Linked DNA regions of Homo sapiens: region 2 is linked to region 1. The links come from fine-mapping of genetic effects on gene expression. A gene starts in region 1. The other region holds a variant in brackets. All regions are shown on one strand. Distances are between the middles of the regions.

Region 1 (8,337 bases):
GGAACTGTGTCTGGGCCTCGGTAATTGCCCTGAGGGTTTCAGGTGGATAATTCATCCACTTCCCTGCTGGCAGCCTCAAAGATTTGTTCCTTTCCTGAGGGAGTGCCAACAGGTTGCTAGAATGAATTGACCATCTCTCCATGAGAGATCAAAGGCTAAGGTCAAAGTGTGGAACTCATCTGCAAATTTCCTAGGATTCTCAGAACAGCTTCCTAGCTTTTCCTTACATTGTTGAATATTAGTTATAGAGAAGGGGGCCTGCACTAGGACTGGCCCCTCAACTCCTGCTACTTCCCTAAGGTGTAGCAGGGCTGGAAGAAGAGCTGAATACAGGGTTCCCCTCCGAATGTGAGGGGGACTTAGTAGGGTCTCTGGTGTTTGCTCCTGGGGTTGAGCCTCAGGAGCACTTGCAAGGGGCTATATGGGGGTGGTCACTGTTCACTCTGAGAGACAGGTGGCCCTTGTAAGAGGGGGTCATCTATAATATGTAGTTCTCCCTTAGAACTTTCCTTTGTGGGGTGGGTTCTGGGAGTTTCACAGATTGTTAGGTTTTGGTAAAGCGTCATGGAAGTCTGCATGTACAAGATTTCTGACCATGTGCTCTGTCTCTTGCAAAATAGGTCTAATTGCAGGATGATGTCATAATTAAGGCTACCATTGACTACCCATTTTTTCCAGGCTGGGCAGCTCATAATGGAGCCAGACAGTACTGCAGAAAAAAATTATATGTTTTCTCTTTAGATTGTCAGGGTCAAATTGATCGCAATGGTGGAGGACGTAGCCGAGCGGGGAATCAGGTGGAATAGGTAGAGAGTTGCCCACAGTGGTCTGGAAAAGAGAAGAGGACTGACCAGGTGACCCAAATTTTACCTGAGGCATCCTCCTGGAAAAATTCTGGGCCCAGACTGGGGTCCCTGGGAGCATCTCCCCATTAGGGCCCTGACTTAGCCTGTTAGATGTCTCTGACCTTAGATAGGTGCAGGCATTGCTTTGGAATGGTTCCCTCCACCACTGAAGACCTACTGTGAACTTTCCTTAAGGTTTTCCCATGCCACTTAAAGCAACTTTTTTTTTTTTTTGAGACAGGGTCTTGCTCTGTTGCCCAGGCTGGAGTGCAGTGGCATGATCTCGGCTCGCTGCAAGCTCTGCCTCCCAGGTTCATGCCATTCTCCTGCCTCAGCCTCCGAGTAGCTGGGACTACAGGCGCCGACCACCATGCCTGGCTAATTTTTTGTATATTTAGTAGAGATGGCGTTTCACCGTGTTAGCCAGGATGGTCTCAATCTCCTGACCTCGTGATCCGCCTGCCTCGGCCTCCCAAAGTGCTGGGATTACAGGCGTGAGCCACCGCAGCCGGCAAAGCAACCCTTTAACTCTCTCAATTTAGGCAATAATAGATTACCTTTCATGAATTCCCCCCACTCCCCATGCATCACACAGACCACCTACGACATGCCTGGACCCTCTGACTCATATAACCTTTTTGCATAGCTAGGTGGGTTTTCTGTCCTTAGCCAGTCAAGTGGGGGAAGGGAAGGGAAGAATTTAGCATAAGGTTTAAGTCACCTGAAACGTGTGAGTTTGCCCTGGATGAGCTGCTGCTGCTGCCAACCCAGACACAGGTAGGGATCTATAATCAGAAAGGACAGAAAAGAGTCTTTCACCCTTCTGGGCAGGGCAGCCGTCCCTGTTCACTCTTTGGCCTTCAGAGAACACTGGAGAGTGGCCCCGGCCAGTTTCCCTCAATTACCAAGGAGCTACTAGGAAACGACCAGTGAAAGACTGAAAAAGCAAAAAACAAACAAACAAAAAACAACAAAAAACAAAAAGGAATAGAACTCAGAAAAAAGAGAGAAAAAAAGAAAAGGAATAGGACTCAGAAAAATGAAAACAAGGAAAAAGACTTCTCAGTGACCAGGCAGTGGCGGTCAAGTGCTTCGACACGGAAGCCTTTCAGTCTCACCAGAGAGTGGCCCTGGCCAGAAACTTACAATTTCCTCTGTGCTTAGGCGCTGTCCACCGAGTTGGGTTCCGAGTTGGAAAGGAAAAGAGAGAGGGAGAGAAAAATTCCCCTGCATTAAAAGGGAAATGGAGAAAAATAAATCCCAAGCTTTGGGCCTACCTTCTCTCCTGGCTGGCTTGCCAAAATATGTTACCAGTAGAGGGTTTTGACTGAAAGTTGTCTAGGTTCTTGGCGTTTTTGAACAAAGAATTGGAGAAAACACACAGAAAAGCAAGGGAAAAATGGAGCAATGAAAGAACAAAAGCAAGGGTTTATTAAAAATGAAAGTACACTCAACAGTGTGGGAGCGGGCCAAGCAGCAGCTCAAGGGCCCAGATACAGAATCTTCTTGGGTCCAAATACCCCCTAGAGGTTTCCCATTGGCCACTTGGTGCTCACCTCATGTAAATGAAGTGGTGGCCCGCAATCAGTCTGACTGGTTAATCAGAGGCCGAAGTGAAGTTACAAAGGTCATGCTCCTGTGCAAACATCTGATTGGTTGTGGAAAGCAACCAATCAGGCTGAAGTGAAGTTACAAAGTTGCACTTCTATGCAATTTTAACATATAAACTGAAATGTAGCATAGAAATCGAAATGTACTTTCAATTTCCCATCTGCTGCACAGAAAAGGTGGGGGGTTGTAAAGAGAGTAGCCTCTGGTCCTCTTGTTACTTAGGTGTGGAAAGTTAGGGTTTTCCTTTCGATTTAGTTCTAGGAAGTCAGCGTGAAATGGCCTTAGGTTCCCTGCCTGCAGACTCTATTCTCCTACCTCAGTTGGGCTAGGTGAAAGGGAAGAGTTGATCAGAATGGGAGGATCATTATGTAAAGTATGGAGCTTAGTTAATAATAGTGTACCAATGTCATGCCCTCAGATTTAAAAAAAATTTTTTAATTTTTTATTCTTTTGCCACCTCCTTGTCGCTGGCAGTGCCCCCCAGTTATGCACAAGCACAAGCTCTGGGTCTGCAGTCTGAACCCCCGGCCAGGCCACGGGTGTCTTATCAACAATAGAGGAAACGAACAGAACTTTGTAGTATTTTTGCAACTTTTCTGTAAACCAAAATAAAAAGTTTACTTTAAAAAAGATGATCAGGTGAGTTTTAAATTCTACACATGCATTCATGTACTCAACAGATTGTCTATTATGCATCAGGCACTGGGTATAAATGAGTGCCTGCATCATGATGCCACCCCTTGTGTAGTTTACAATCCTGTGGTAAATTGGCGGTATTGGTAACAACATCCCTGTTTTTTCTAAAAGCAAATCTCCAACTAGTATATTAACCTGACAAAATCTTGGCTGATGGGGTGTCTAAAAAGAAGTCTTGCTCTATTCCTTCCTAGCTGTGCGACCTTGGCAGAGCTAACCTCACTGTGTATCAGTTTCCTCAGTGCTAAAATTGGGGAAGAAAAAAAAAAAGCATTCCCTTGTGCGTCCTTAGCATGCTTTCAAGCAGTTACTAAATGTTAGTTTTTATAACGGTTATAATTATTAAAAAGATACGGATTCGTGAAGTCAAGAGATCAAGACCGTCCTGGACAACACGGTGAAACCCCGTTTCTACTAAAAACACAAAAATTAGCTGGGCGTGTGGCGCGTGCCTGTAGTCCCAGCTAGTCGAGAGGCTGAGGCGGAAGAATCGCTTGAACCTGGGAGGCAGAGGTTGCAGTGAGCCGAGATCGCGCCACTGCACTCCAGCTCGGGCGACAGAGCGAGAGTCCGTCTCAAAGCAAAAAAAAAAAAAAAAAAGACACACATATGGGGAAGCGTAACATGGCAGAGAGTCTGACATTTTTGTCCGGAAGGACTTGGGGATGAAAACACTGAATCCGCGGTTTCCCAAAGGTCCTTCCAAAGGTGACGGCCCCGGCACGAGTTCACAAACCACAGCTCCGCCCCATCCCCTGCCCGGCCCCGCCCTTCCCAGGAGCTCTGCTCCGCCCCGCCCCCGACTCCGCTCGGCCCCTCCTCGCGCCACGCCCCCGCCCCTCCCGCGCGCGCAGCTCCGCCCCGCCCTCGTGATCCCGCCCCAACCTCGTGCTAAGCTCCCTTCCGTTCCAGCCGCCTTCAGCCCCGCCGCGCTCAGTTCCGCCCCTTTCTCTTCCAACTCCGCCTACGCCCCAGAGAGGGAAGGCCTTGACACCTACGCTAGAGAGACAGGCTCCAATGAAAAGAGCGAGGGGGCGGAGCCGGGAGGAATCGGTCCAATTCTCGGCCGGGAAGTCTCTGGCCGGGACGGGGCAGGGCGAACCTGCCAGTGACTGGACTCAGCTTCTTTGCGTAACCAATACTGGAAGGCATTTAAAGGCACCTCTGCCGCCACAGACCTTGCAGTTAACTCCGCCCTGACCCACCCTTCCCGATGCAGTCCCTGATGCAGGCTCCCCTCCTGATCGCCCTGGGCTTGCTTCTCGCGGCCCCTGCGCAAGCCCACCTGAAAAAGGTGAGTGCACCCTCTTTTAAGAGTCTGTTTGCAGCCTCCTGGCCCAGCTACGGGTGTGCGGGTCTGGCTGAGATATGGGGGTGGCCACTCCGTTCTCTAGAATTGGTTCTCTGCACTAGAGCCTTCCAAAGTAACTAATTATGGGATTCTGGTCTGTACAATGAGGGTGGCCTCTAAAGACTTGTTCTGCTCCAGGCCCTTTTTGGAGAGATTAATCTCACGTCTGCACTCTCCTGCCCTCCCTCCAAGCGCCGGAGTGAAAATGCAGACAGCCTTAAAACTAAGGCATTGCCCCCAGAGATTCAGTCCTGTTAACCCTGCACCTTACTCCTGACCCCCACTCCTTATGTCCCCCATGATAAGGCCTGCTGCCTCATCTCTTCCCCTGCTCGAATGCCCTGAGGTCTTCCTGAGAGTTGGGAGGGTTTGAGAGCTTTTCCAGGCCAGAGGATCCAGATTTGCCCATCTGGTGACAAATACCCAGGCCTGTGACCCCGCTGCCCTTGGTTATGAGCCACTGAGACAACAGTCCCCGTACCCTCCAAGCTTCCTCCTTCACTTCTCATTGACACCGCTTCTTCCTTCACTTCTCATTCACACCGTGCTGCAGATCCCTGGGAAAGGGAAGTTCTGTAATCCCTTCACCTGAAAAAGCCTCGTTCCTGGCTTATTGCAGCTAGCCCAATGTCTTTCAGATTCAATCTATGTTGTTGCAAATGACAAGATGTTCCCCCTTTTAAAGGCTGAATAGTATTCTGTTGTGTATATATGCCACATTTTCTTTATGCATTCAATTTGATGGATAATTTCTTCATCAAGTGTCTGTTGATGGATAATTTCTTTATCCATCAAGTGTCTGTTGATGGACACTTAGGTTATTTCCATATCTTAGCTATTGTGAGTAATGCTGCAATGAATATGGGAGTGCAGATAGCCCTTCGAAATGTTGATTTCAGTTCCTTTGGATATATACCCAGAAGTGGGATAATGGCTCATATGGTAGTTCTGTTTTATTATCTCATTTATATGCGGATTCTAACCAAGTTGAACTTACAGAAGTTGAGAGTAGAGGTGGGGTCTCACTCTGTCACCCAGGCTGGAGTGCAGTGGGGCGATTGTAGCTCACTGCAGCCTTAAACTCCTGGGCTCAAGCAGTCCTCCCACCTCAGTCTCCTGAGTAGCTGGGACTGCAGGTGTGGGCCACCAAGTTCTGCTAAGGAATAGGCTTTGAGATTTATTGCACACCAGGGTGACTATCGTCAGTAATGTATTATATACAGAAGCTCCTTAACTTTCCATGAGGTTATGTTCTGATAAACCCATCATAAGTTGAAAATGCATTTAATACAGCTAACCTGAGAATCATAGCCTAGCCTACCTTAAACATGCCTAGCCTACCTTAAACATGCCCAGAACATTTACATTAGCCTACAGTTGGGCAATATCATCTAACACAAAGCCTATTTCATAATAAAGTGTTGAATGTCTCATGTGATTTACTGAAGACTGTACTGAAAGTGAAAAACAGTATGGATACTAAAAGTACAGTTTCTACTGAATATTTATCACTTAGGCACGATTGTAAAGTTGAAAAATGGTATGTCAAACCATTGTAAGTCAGGAACTGTGTGCATTTCAAAACAACTAAGAGAATACATTTCACATTGCAGTGTACCCCATAAATGTATACAACTATGGTTTGTCAATTTAAAAAAAACCCAAGACCAGGTGCGGTGGTGCACACCTGTAATCCCAGGACTTTGGGAGGCTGAGGTGGACAGATTGCTTGAGCTCAGGAGTTCAAGACCAGCCTGGGCAACATGGTGAAGCCCCATCTCTGCAAAAATACAAAAATTAGCTGGGCGTGGTGGTGTGCGCCAGTATTCCCAGCTACTTGAGAGGCTAAGGTGAGAGGCCCAGCTACGCCTGAACCTGGGAGGTCATGGCTACAGCTGAGATTGCACCACTGCATTCCAGCCTGGGTGACAGAGTGAGACCCTATCTCACAAAAAAACCCCAAAAACAAAAACCCGATTCCATTGCCTCTTGGCTGCTAGCTGTGGTCAAGACATCACACATTTCTGGTAGCAAAGGGATAGGTCCAACCCTGATCCCCTCCCTTCTACCATCTTGGAAGTGTTTGAGAGTGAGGAACAGTGCTGTGTAGGGGAAAGCGGGTGATACTGAAAGCAGGGAGGCTTGGCTTCTGATCATTCCCCTGTCTCAATCCATGGATTTCCTGAGTCTTGTTCTCCTCATCTGTAAGATGGGTGTGATGGTGCCAACGTGCATCTCGGGGAGTTGTCGGTGAAGGGAAATGCATTCATTGATGGAAAATTTCTAAAATCAGAAACAAATAAAGCCATATAAATCTGTGGGCTTGGCCTCACTCTGCCCCCGAGGCAGAAAGTCTGTTTTGCTTGTTGAATGAAGGAACGTGGACCTTTTGACTTCATTTGCCTGGAGAATTTATACCTTGTTCCTGAATGTTGGCTGAGAATGCTTCTCTTGGCTCCAGGGCTGGCCGCTATGAGGTGGAGTCTGGCTAGAGGCTGCTAGCTCACCCTACAAACTTGTTGTATATGCTGTGGGTATGGATGCCATCTCAGACTAGGTCTTAGATTGGCAGTTTTGAAGAGGCCCTGAGACATTATAAAGGTCACTCAAAATCACACAGCACCTACATCTTCTTGGGGCTCATGTGATTCAGAGCCCTGACCTTGAGTCCCTGGGCCAGATAAAGATGGGGGTGGGGGGTGACAGTGAATGAACATCAGGAAACCTGAATTTCAGTTCCTCTTCTAGCATAACTGATCTTGTGACTACAGGCTGTGATGGGTGTTAGATAACAGGGGAGGATATCTAGCCCCATGCTAGTCATATAGTAGGTGCTTAATAGACTCTATAGTGCTGTATAGTGGCTGTCATTTGTTGTACCCATACTATGTGCTATGTACTGGGCTATGTGCTTTTTTCCTAAAAAAAAATTTGGAATAATTTTAGGTTTATAGAATAGTTGCAGCAGGGCGTGGTGGTTCACCCCTATAATCCAGCACTGTGGGAGACCAAGGCAGGCAAATCACTTGAGGCCAGGAGTTTGAGACCAACCTGAACCTGGCCAACATGGTGAAACCCTGTCCATACTAAAAATACAAAAATTAGCCAGGCATGGTGGCGTACACCTGTAGTCCCAGCTACTTGGGAGGCTGAGGCAGGAGAAATCACTTGAACCTAGGAGGCAGAGGTTGCAGTGAGCTGAGATCACGCTGCTGCACTCCAGCCTGGATGACAGAGTGAGACTCTGTCTCAAGAAAAAAAAAAAAAAAAGAAAAGTTACAGAGATAATATAGAGTTTCTATATACTCCTGACTCAGTTTTCCCTGTTAGCATCTTATATGTACATATCTCCAACACTAAGAAACCAACATTAGTACATTACTGTTAACTGAATTCTAGACTTTATTTGGATTTCACCAGTTTTCCCATTAATGCCCTCTTTCTGAGCCAGGATCCAATCCAGGGTACTGCACTGCCATTGTTGTCATGACACATATAATTGTAGTCCCCCCTCTCCTCCAGCCTATGACAGCTTCTTAGTCTTTCCTTGTTTATTCATGAGCTTGGCAGTCTTGAGGAGTTGTGCCCTGTGCTTTCTGTATACAAACATCTTACCCTCACAATAGCCCTGTGAGAAGATATCATTATGTCCACATAATAAATGAGGAAATTTTGAACCCCTAGGGGGTTAACTTACCCATGGTCTTAGCTAGTAAGACTGGCTGAGCTGGGTTTTAACTCATACCTGTAGTACCCATATCTCTGCCTCCAGAGCTGTGCCTTTCCCCTCCGTCTTGTACCACCCCTTCCCACTAGTTGGCCTAGGCTGGAATG
Region 2 (8,337 bases), 47 kb after region 1:
GCCCCAGTGCTGGAATGAGAGAGAAGCAGGCCTCTGACCTCTGGCTGAGGTGTTGAGCACAGTTCAACAGGATGACCATGCAGTGCACGGTGAGGACCCCGATGGCCAGAAGGCTGACAGGACCGACCTGGAGGGGAGAGGAGAAAGGGGGAAGTGAGCCAGAAATGATCACTCCCATTCCCTGGCCCTCTCACAGTCTGCGTGCTGGGGCCTGTTGCATAATAAAACTGTCTTTGGGGTGACAGACCCAGCCTGAATGTCCTCATGCTCCCAGATGCTAGAATTTGAATGCTCTTCTTAGCATCCCTGTAGAGTGGCTGCCCAACTTCTGCTAGGATACTTCCAGTGACAGAGAGCTCATTACCTTCCCACATAGCCCATGCATTTTCTCATTTTCCTTGAGTTCTACCAGTTTAGAGTCCCTTGTGGTAAATTTATTTTGTCTGACACACCCTGGCCCTCACTTCCTCCAAGATGATTGAGGGCCAAGGTGTTCTTATGACTCAGTTCTCTTCCTCTAGTACAGAGTTTATCAACAGGTGCCCTATTGACATTTTGGGGCAGATAATTATTTGTTATCAGGAGCTGTCTTTTGCATTATAGGATGTTTAGCAGCTTTCCCGAGCCTCTACCCACTAGGTGTCAGAGACTCTTCCCCCAGATTGTGGCAACCAAAAATGTCTGTAGAGATTGTAAAGGTCTTTGGCTAGGGTAGCAGGAGCTGGTGCAAAATGATCCCAAGTTGGGGATCACTACTGTAGTGTGTCTAATTTGTCAAATTCCTTTTAAAAAGTGGGGCTGATTACTAATTATATCTTCCAGAGGTGATCAGAAGGGTATAAACGGGGACCCTCTCACATCCTTTGTTCTGAACACTTGTGTCTTTATAGATGTGACCTATCACAAAGACATAAATGAGGGATCAAGAGCACCACTAGACTCCACTGGAATGCAGGCTTCATGCAGCAGAGACTCTCGTGTCTTGTTTGCTTCTATATTCCCAGGGGCTACAAATGCACAGGGTAGATAGGTGCTCAATAAATATTTCTCAAATGAATCATGGCCAGAGGTTCTGGTGGGAGATGAAAGGTAAAGAAATCATCTAATGACTCTGAGGAAGCAAATATCAAAGAATAAAAGCATTGTCTTAAAAACAAATACCACCCTGGCAAAGATAGTTTGGCTGAAGACCATGTTTTTTTGTAGAAGCTCTAGAACCCAGAGGATTCCAAAGGGGAGAGTCCAGTCTCTGGGTTGGAACCACTGAAGATCAGAAGTCATGACAGAGGCAGCAAGGGTCTCGCCTTCTTTAGACATAGAAGCCACTTACCAGGCCTGGAGATAAGAAAAGATTCACTCCAAGGAAATGGAATTATATATTTGGTATCTATTCCATTCAGTAGATGTTAATGGAAACTTGCTGTGTGCCAGTCCCTACAGAGGCTACCGTGGGGACGTGCAAAGGGAAATCAGACAGTTCTTGCCCACAGAGCTTTCAATTAAATGAGGAAGGTGGGTCTGTTAGAAAATAAATATGTCGACCGGACGAGGTGGCTCACACCTGTCATCCCAGCACCTTGCGAGGCCGAGATGGGCCAGTCACCTGAGGTCAGGAGTTTGAGACCTGCCTGGCCAACATGATGAAAACCTCTCTACAAAGAATACAAAAATTAGCTGGGCGTGGTGGCTCACACCTGTAATCCCAGCAACTCGGGAGGCTGAGGCAGGAGAATCGCTTGAACCCGGGAGGCGGAGGTTGCAGTGAGCCAAGATTGTGCCACTGCACTCCAGCCTGGGCGACAGAGCGAGACTCTGTCTCAATAAATAATAATAAATAAATAAATATCTTATCTTCGTAAGTGCTTTAAGAATCCCAGGTAAGGTAGATATAAATGGTAGAAAAATACAAAGTGAGGATGGCATTAGTGATCATAAGAAAGTGTAAAGTTTTAGAGAGGAGGCACTTTAAAAAGACAGAAATGAGGGGGCAGGAACAGCACAGGAAAAGAGAAAGAGGTAGGCTGGTGTGGGGAGAGTGGATTGGTGGGATTGATGGAGGCGTCTATCTTCATGTCCAAGACACTTTCTCATGCGCCCTCAAGTGGTTTGGAACAGGAGTCACACACTCAAATGCCTGCAGGGATTGGGCTGTTAATGCAAATGACGAAATGAGCTGCATGTGATCCTAGGAGTGGGGAGGACTGCGGGGAGAATTGTGGCAAAGTAGAGTCAGATGAGCATGGTGAGTCTTTAAGAGTAATGGTGTGCCCCCTTCAGGGATGCTCAGGTTGGACCCAGGTTGACTCCAGGGGATTGATGCCAACAGGCACATTTTCAATTGCAGAGGGTACCCCCAAATTGCCCATTGATAACAGTGTGAAGGCCTTCAGGACCTATCACCCCCTTCTGCAAATGAGCAAACCTAGTTCCCATCCCACAGATGCCTCTTACCAACAAGCCGGCATTCTTTATGGCCAGGGGAAGCCCCAGGAGCCCTGTGCCAATGTTGCATTTCAACAAGTGGATCAAAGTTTGCATCATCCTGTGGTGGGGAGAGTAGGGAGACAGAGGGTACTGTTAGTGGAAGGGAAGCATGGCCAGAAACTCAGCCTCCTTCTGGCATCTCCAGAGCGCCTGATAGGAAGAGGGGCAAAACCTGATGAGGTGGACTTGGAGACAACTCTCAGTTCTAGGGGTCTGTCCTGGAACATCTGATCTGGGGATGGTGCTAGTTCAAGTGACTCAACAAATCTTTAATACACACTAGGCTCTAAAGGAAATAAAAATTGCTACCATTCTGGATAACACTCTAGTACTGGTTGGTTCATTAATTCATCCAGTGATTTCTTTCATGAGTTATTCTCTCAAATAACATTTATTGTGACCTAATACATGTCTATCAGTTAGATAGACAATGGAAAAATTAGTAATAGTTGCCTCAGTCTACAGTGAGACATCAGGTTATTTATTAACTCACTCACTAGAAACAAAAATCTACCATATATGGGATATTTACTGGTTTTAGTTTACTCCTTCATCCATTTGTTCAACCAATATTCATTGTGAATATGAATTGCTTGTGCGCTCTCTCTCTCTCTCTCTCTCTCTCTCTCTCTCTCTCTCTATATATATATATATATATATATATATGAAATGAGCTGCATGTGATGCTAGGGAGTGGGGAGGACTGTGGGGAGAATTGTGGCAAAGTAGAGTCAGATGAGCATGGTGATATATATATATATATATATATTATATATATATGAATTGCTATATATCGACATTATGCACTGGGTAAAATTTAATAATTTAATAGCAATTGTTACTGTGCATATAGAGTACTTATGATGGTCCCAGCAGGGTGCTAGGGCCTAGGGTTCTAAATATTCTTCACACCTGTGCTGGCAGCTCCTGCCCAGGCAGCTCCAATCCTGATGTGGATTGGGTGGGAAAGGTGGGAACAGGATCATGAGAACAGAATCAAAAAGGAACTTAAATAAAAAGTACATGCGTAAGCATTGAACCCAGAGATGGGAGCACTTAATTCTGAGTTCCAGCTCTGCCGCTAACCTACTGTGTTTGGTTACTACTTTGGGAAGCCATTAGCTGCTTTGATCCTGTTTCACTGCCAAAAAAGGGAGAAAATTCTAGTTTTGCCTATGTCCCAGGGAAGCTGTAAGACTCAAAAGAGGTAACAACATGATGAATCATGGAATCATGAAGTGCTTCACAGATGTGAGCATCATCATCGTCATATCATTGTCTCATCATCATCATCATCCTCACTGCCACCTTTGGTTTGGCCTTCATGGTGCTCATTTGTTAGAAAGCGCATCCTTCAAGAGGAAGAAGAATTGGGATGATAGGAAAAAGGCAAGCATGGGCTGGTTTAAGCAAGTAGAAGTGCCCCCTCCACCCAAGAACAAAAGGGTACCTTGAAGATGCCATTGGGAGATACAGACGAAGTCTCAGGCTAAGACAGAGAATGCCCTCTTGCCACACTTAAATTGTCTGCAGGTGGCCAGGAGAGCCAAAACCAACTGCCCAAGTGAGTCCAGCAGAGACAGTGCTCACATCTCTTTGTCTTATCCATTAGAGAGTCATGGCAAGGGGCTAGGAAGAAGCTGTAACCAACCAGGTCTTTGCATTTCAATGCTGACCTGAGAGAGGGTTGGGTTGAGAGAACAGATGAACTGTTGGGGACTTCTGTGACTTCAGTCTATTGAGTGAAGTCTATTGACCTAACTTCTGTTAGGGCAGTCTATTCACCTAAGGATGGGGGGGTGGGCACCCATTGTCCCTTTACTTCCAAGAGATAACCTTTATTTCTTGATAACTGTAATTTGTCAATTCTTAAGTAGTAATTTCTCCAAAAGATGTGGTCCCATTTCCCACCCTCTGCTCTTTTTTCCTTTGTCTCTCACTTCTTTCCCATGACAGCATCGATGTCTTGCCCCTATTTGAATCAGATATTGTGGGAAAGGTGAGACAAGTTTTCGGAGGAACCACTGTGCCTTAGCTGACAGCATTTACCCATCTGGACCTTGAAGCATAAATAGATGTTGCAAGCTCCCCTGAGA[T/C]TTAAAAAATTGGGTTTATATTTTTTCTCGAAAACTATACAATTGCTATTATAAAAGGAAATTCCAAAATCCCACCAATGGAAAATAACCACACATTATAATTAGCCCTCCTCTGGGCATCTTTATTTGCTCTAAATGCACCGAATTTTACATAAAGAGAACCGCTATGCATGCTGGATCCTCAACTAATTTTCTGTATGAATAAATGTGCTACACACTTTCCATGTCCATACATTTCCTCCATCACTTGTAATGACTGTATCATATTCTACTGTATGTTTGTTTCATGTGTTAACCTTTCTCTTAATGTTTCCAAGTTTTCAATATTATTGAAACTGCCTTTGCAAAATTATAACTGAGGAAATTAAGACAGCGAAAGAAATCAGACCTAACCAACTCCATCTTGCTTCTAACCTTTAAGATGTCCTTGTTTATTCCTGGACATAGGCTGAGCTAACTTTGGGAAGGAATTCATTTCATGGTTTGACTATTGGTATCACCCCTTTCCCAAAAAGACCCCCTTTTTGCCTGGGGACCATTCTGCCTTTGCAGGACTAACAAATTAGCTATAAGATTGGAAATTACAGTTTAGGGGTCATGCAGCCTCTGGCTCCAGGAGTCTAAACCTCCCCACATTGTTCCTGGGGATAACATCACATTGTAAAACCTAAGATCAGTGCTTGAGTTATTTTGCAGACCCTGCACTCTGATGGACCATCTGAAACCACCCAGACCGGTCATCTGGCTCAACCAGTTCTGCCATCCCTCCCAAGAACAGAAAACAGCAAGAAAAACTCACTTCGAGCCCCTGTGATTCCATCTCCAACCTGATCAATCAGCACTCCCCACTTCCCAAGCTCCTACCCACCAAATTATCTTTAAAAACTCTAATTCCCGAATGCTCAGGGAGACCGATTTGAGTGATAATAAAACTCCGGTCTCGAGCTTGCAGTGAGCTGAGATCGCGCCACTGCACTCCAGCCTGGGCGATAGAGCAAGACTCCGTCTAAAAAAAAAAAAAAAAAACCTCCAGTCTCTTGCACAGCAGATTCTGCATGAATTACTCTTTCTCCATTGCAATTCCCCTGTCTTGATAAATCGTCTCTGTCTAGGCAGTGGGCAAGGTGAACCCATTGAGTGGTTACATTATAACAAGTGCTTTGATAAAAATTATGCACTCTTGTGCTATTATTTCATCAGAAAAAATTCCTAGAGGGGTATTATTAATCAAAGGGTATATTTATTTATATTTCATTATACTTTAAAGAACTAGATTGTAATACTTACAGTACAAAATTCAAAAGATAAAACGCAATAATCCAAATCCTTATGAAACAAATATAAATCTCTTTTCTCTCAGCCTCCAAATTCTCTTCCCCAGAGGCAACCACTGCTGTCAGTTTTGTGTGTGTGCACGAGTTGTATACTTTCAGACAGCATTTGCCAAATAAATATTTGTATGTTTTATACAAATGACATTTTACGATTTGACCTGTAACATTGCCATCTAGAAAGATACCAATTTAATTCTTCCCAAAAGATGAGAGAGGGCATTTCCTGATATCCTTATCAACACTGGGGATTGTCATCGATAATCTCTTTGTGCCCACAGTTGTTACCGATCTGATGATTACCAGATAGCAGTGTGATTGACAGTAAGTCCTAGAAGAAGAGTTCTGTTGAAATCATGTCCTTTGCAGGGACATGGATGGAGCCGGAAGCCAGTATACTCCGCAAACTAACAAAGGAACAGAAAACCAAACACTGCATGTTCTCACTTGTAAGTGGGAGCTGAACAATGAGAACACATGGACACAGGGAGGAGAACAAGACAAACACTGGGGCTGGTTGGGGGTGGGGGGCAGGGGATGGGAGAGCATCAGGATAAATAGCTAAGGTATATGGGGCTTAATACCTAGGTGATGGGTTGATAGGTACAGCAAAACCACTATGACACACGTTTACCTATGTAACAAACCCGCATGTCCTGTACATGTATCCTGGAACTTAAAATTAAATTAAATTTAATTTAATTAAAAAAAAAGAGAGAAGAGTTCCATGTGTCTGAGTTTGGGGCAGTAAAGGTGGAGACATGGGGTTAGCACCTTTTGTTTTCTGGATGGATGGCATGGGGGGTTGGGGAGAAGAGGCAGAGAGAATAATGGCAGATGTGTGAGGAGAAGAAGGCAGCCAGAGACTGTGGAAGAAAGAAAGGGAGGAAGGAAAGGGCAGACAGCCTGAGATAGGAAACTGTTCCTGGAGACAAGCTGCTCATGTTGAGGGTGGCTGCTCTAGCTGGGTTCTTCGTAAAAACTGGGAAACAGGGCTAGTAGCCAGAGCCACAGGGATTGACCTCCTTAGATTCTGAAGGTTTCATCTTTTATCCACGCATATCGTGTTAATGGAATAAGCGTGTTAAGGAGATAGATGAAGGAAGACATAGTCCAGAGTTGCAAAAACAGCAGTGCTTGACCTCAGGCCTGGAAGGGCGGTGCGGCCACTTACGATAGTCCAGCTTCTCCAGCAGGATGGACATTCTCTGAAGTAATGCTACTGCTGCTCTCTGAGGGTGACTGAGGTCCGTTGTCCAAGGAGTTCAGCTCACTGTTGTAGTCCCTTCCAAGCAATGACATCTTCAACACGGTGGGTAGGTGGCAGAGGCTCAGGGTTAAGGCTCTGAATGAGCCTCTGATGGGTCTTTCTCCAGAGAAACCATGGCTGCTGACCTGAGATGCTGGCTCCTAACCCCAAGGATGCGTGCTGCTGGCTGAAGCCTGAAGTGCATGAATCAGGGAAGCGGTGGTGGCAGGAGAGGCTGATGTTGATGATGCCTCACCTGGCTCTTGGGGGACTTATGAAAGACCCATCTCAGTCAGGATGGTCCTCAGTTTCACTCGCAATTGCTTGCCCAACCAGGACTTGCCTGGGCTTTTGGCCTCTCCTAGTTTAGCCCTTGCTGCTGTAGGGCAAAGTGAACAGTGTGACTGGGAGGAAGAAGACACCATTGGATTGGAGGTCCTGGTGCCTGGACGTGGGGCCAGGCTCAGTGCTTGTCTGTCTTTGGCAAGGAAAAAACCAGAGCTACCTCACAATGGAGGCTGCCCAGCCAATGAGCTGCAGCAGAATCCTGGGATGCAGATGTGGCCCAACAGAACATAATCCAGCTACCATGTTCCCTGTTTGGGGTGAAGAGTGGCTTGTAAGGCCCAGTTCAAATGCCACCTGCTCAGAATTTCTATACAGGAGGCGTATGGCCTGCCAGTGATTTGGAAGGGAGTGCAGGTCATGTTTAAAAAAAATCATTTGTTCAGAAAATATTTATTGAGCATCTAATATATGCTAGAAACTGTTCTCCATGCTGGGAATATATTAGGGTAGAAAACTTACTACAATCTCTGTTCTCATGGAATTTACAATCTGGAGGGGCTGGGGGAGACAGACAATAAACGAAACAAATATATCAAGTATCTGTTAGTAAAAAGCGGTATAGAGAAAATCCAGGCAAGGGTAATGGAGAGTTTCAGCTAGGGGGAGGGTCGCAATTTTAGATTGGGTGATCAGAGAGGGCCTCACCTAGAAAGTGACATTTGGGCAAAGGGCTGAACAAGATGAGGGAACACAACTCATGTAGGTCTTGGGTAAGAAACTCCTAGCAGAGGGGCAAGAAGTGCAAAGGTCCTGAGGCAGGAGAGTGCCTGGGGTGTTTTAGGAATGGCAATGAGGTCATATGGCTATCTGGGAGCACACAGAGGAGAAT

What was found. PIP is the estimated chance that this variant, and not a neighbour inherited with it, causes the effect. A credible set is the group of variants that fine-mapping cannot tell apart.
Region 2: its variant is the best candidate, but not a certain one, in a credible set for the expression of GM2A in unexposed skin (GTEx, PIP 0.62).

The regions. Positions count from the first base shown.
Region 1 is chr5:151,248,852-151,257,188 of GRCh38, forward strand. It overlaps GM2A (ganglioside GM2 activator), which reads left to right and starts at 4,334. Exons shown (of 4, transcript NM_000405.5): 1 at 4,334-4,446. The coding sequence starts at 4,366. LOC124901115 (a long non-coding RNA gene) reads right to left here and starts at 2,334. Exons shown (of 3, transcript XR_007059003.1): 1 at 2,123-2,334; 2 at 1,567-1,630; 3 at 1-828. RefSeq lists a silencer at 3,945-4,294 and an enhancer at 7,399-7,538.
Region 2 is chr5:151,296,142-151,304,478 of GRCh38, forward strand. SLC36A3 (solute carrier family 36 member 3) reads right to left here and starts at 7,625. Exons shown (of 10, transcript NM_181774.4): 1 at 7,086-7,625; 2 at 2,452-2,542; 3 at 39-127. The coding sequence starts at 7,213. The variant T/C (reference allele first, on the strand shown) is at 4,581.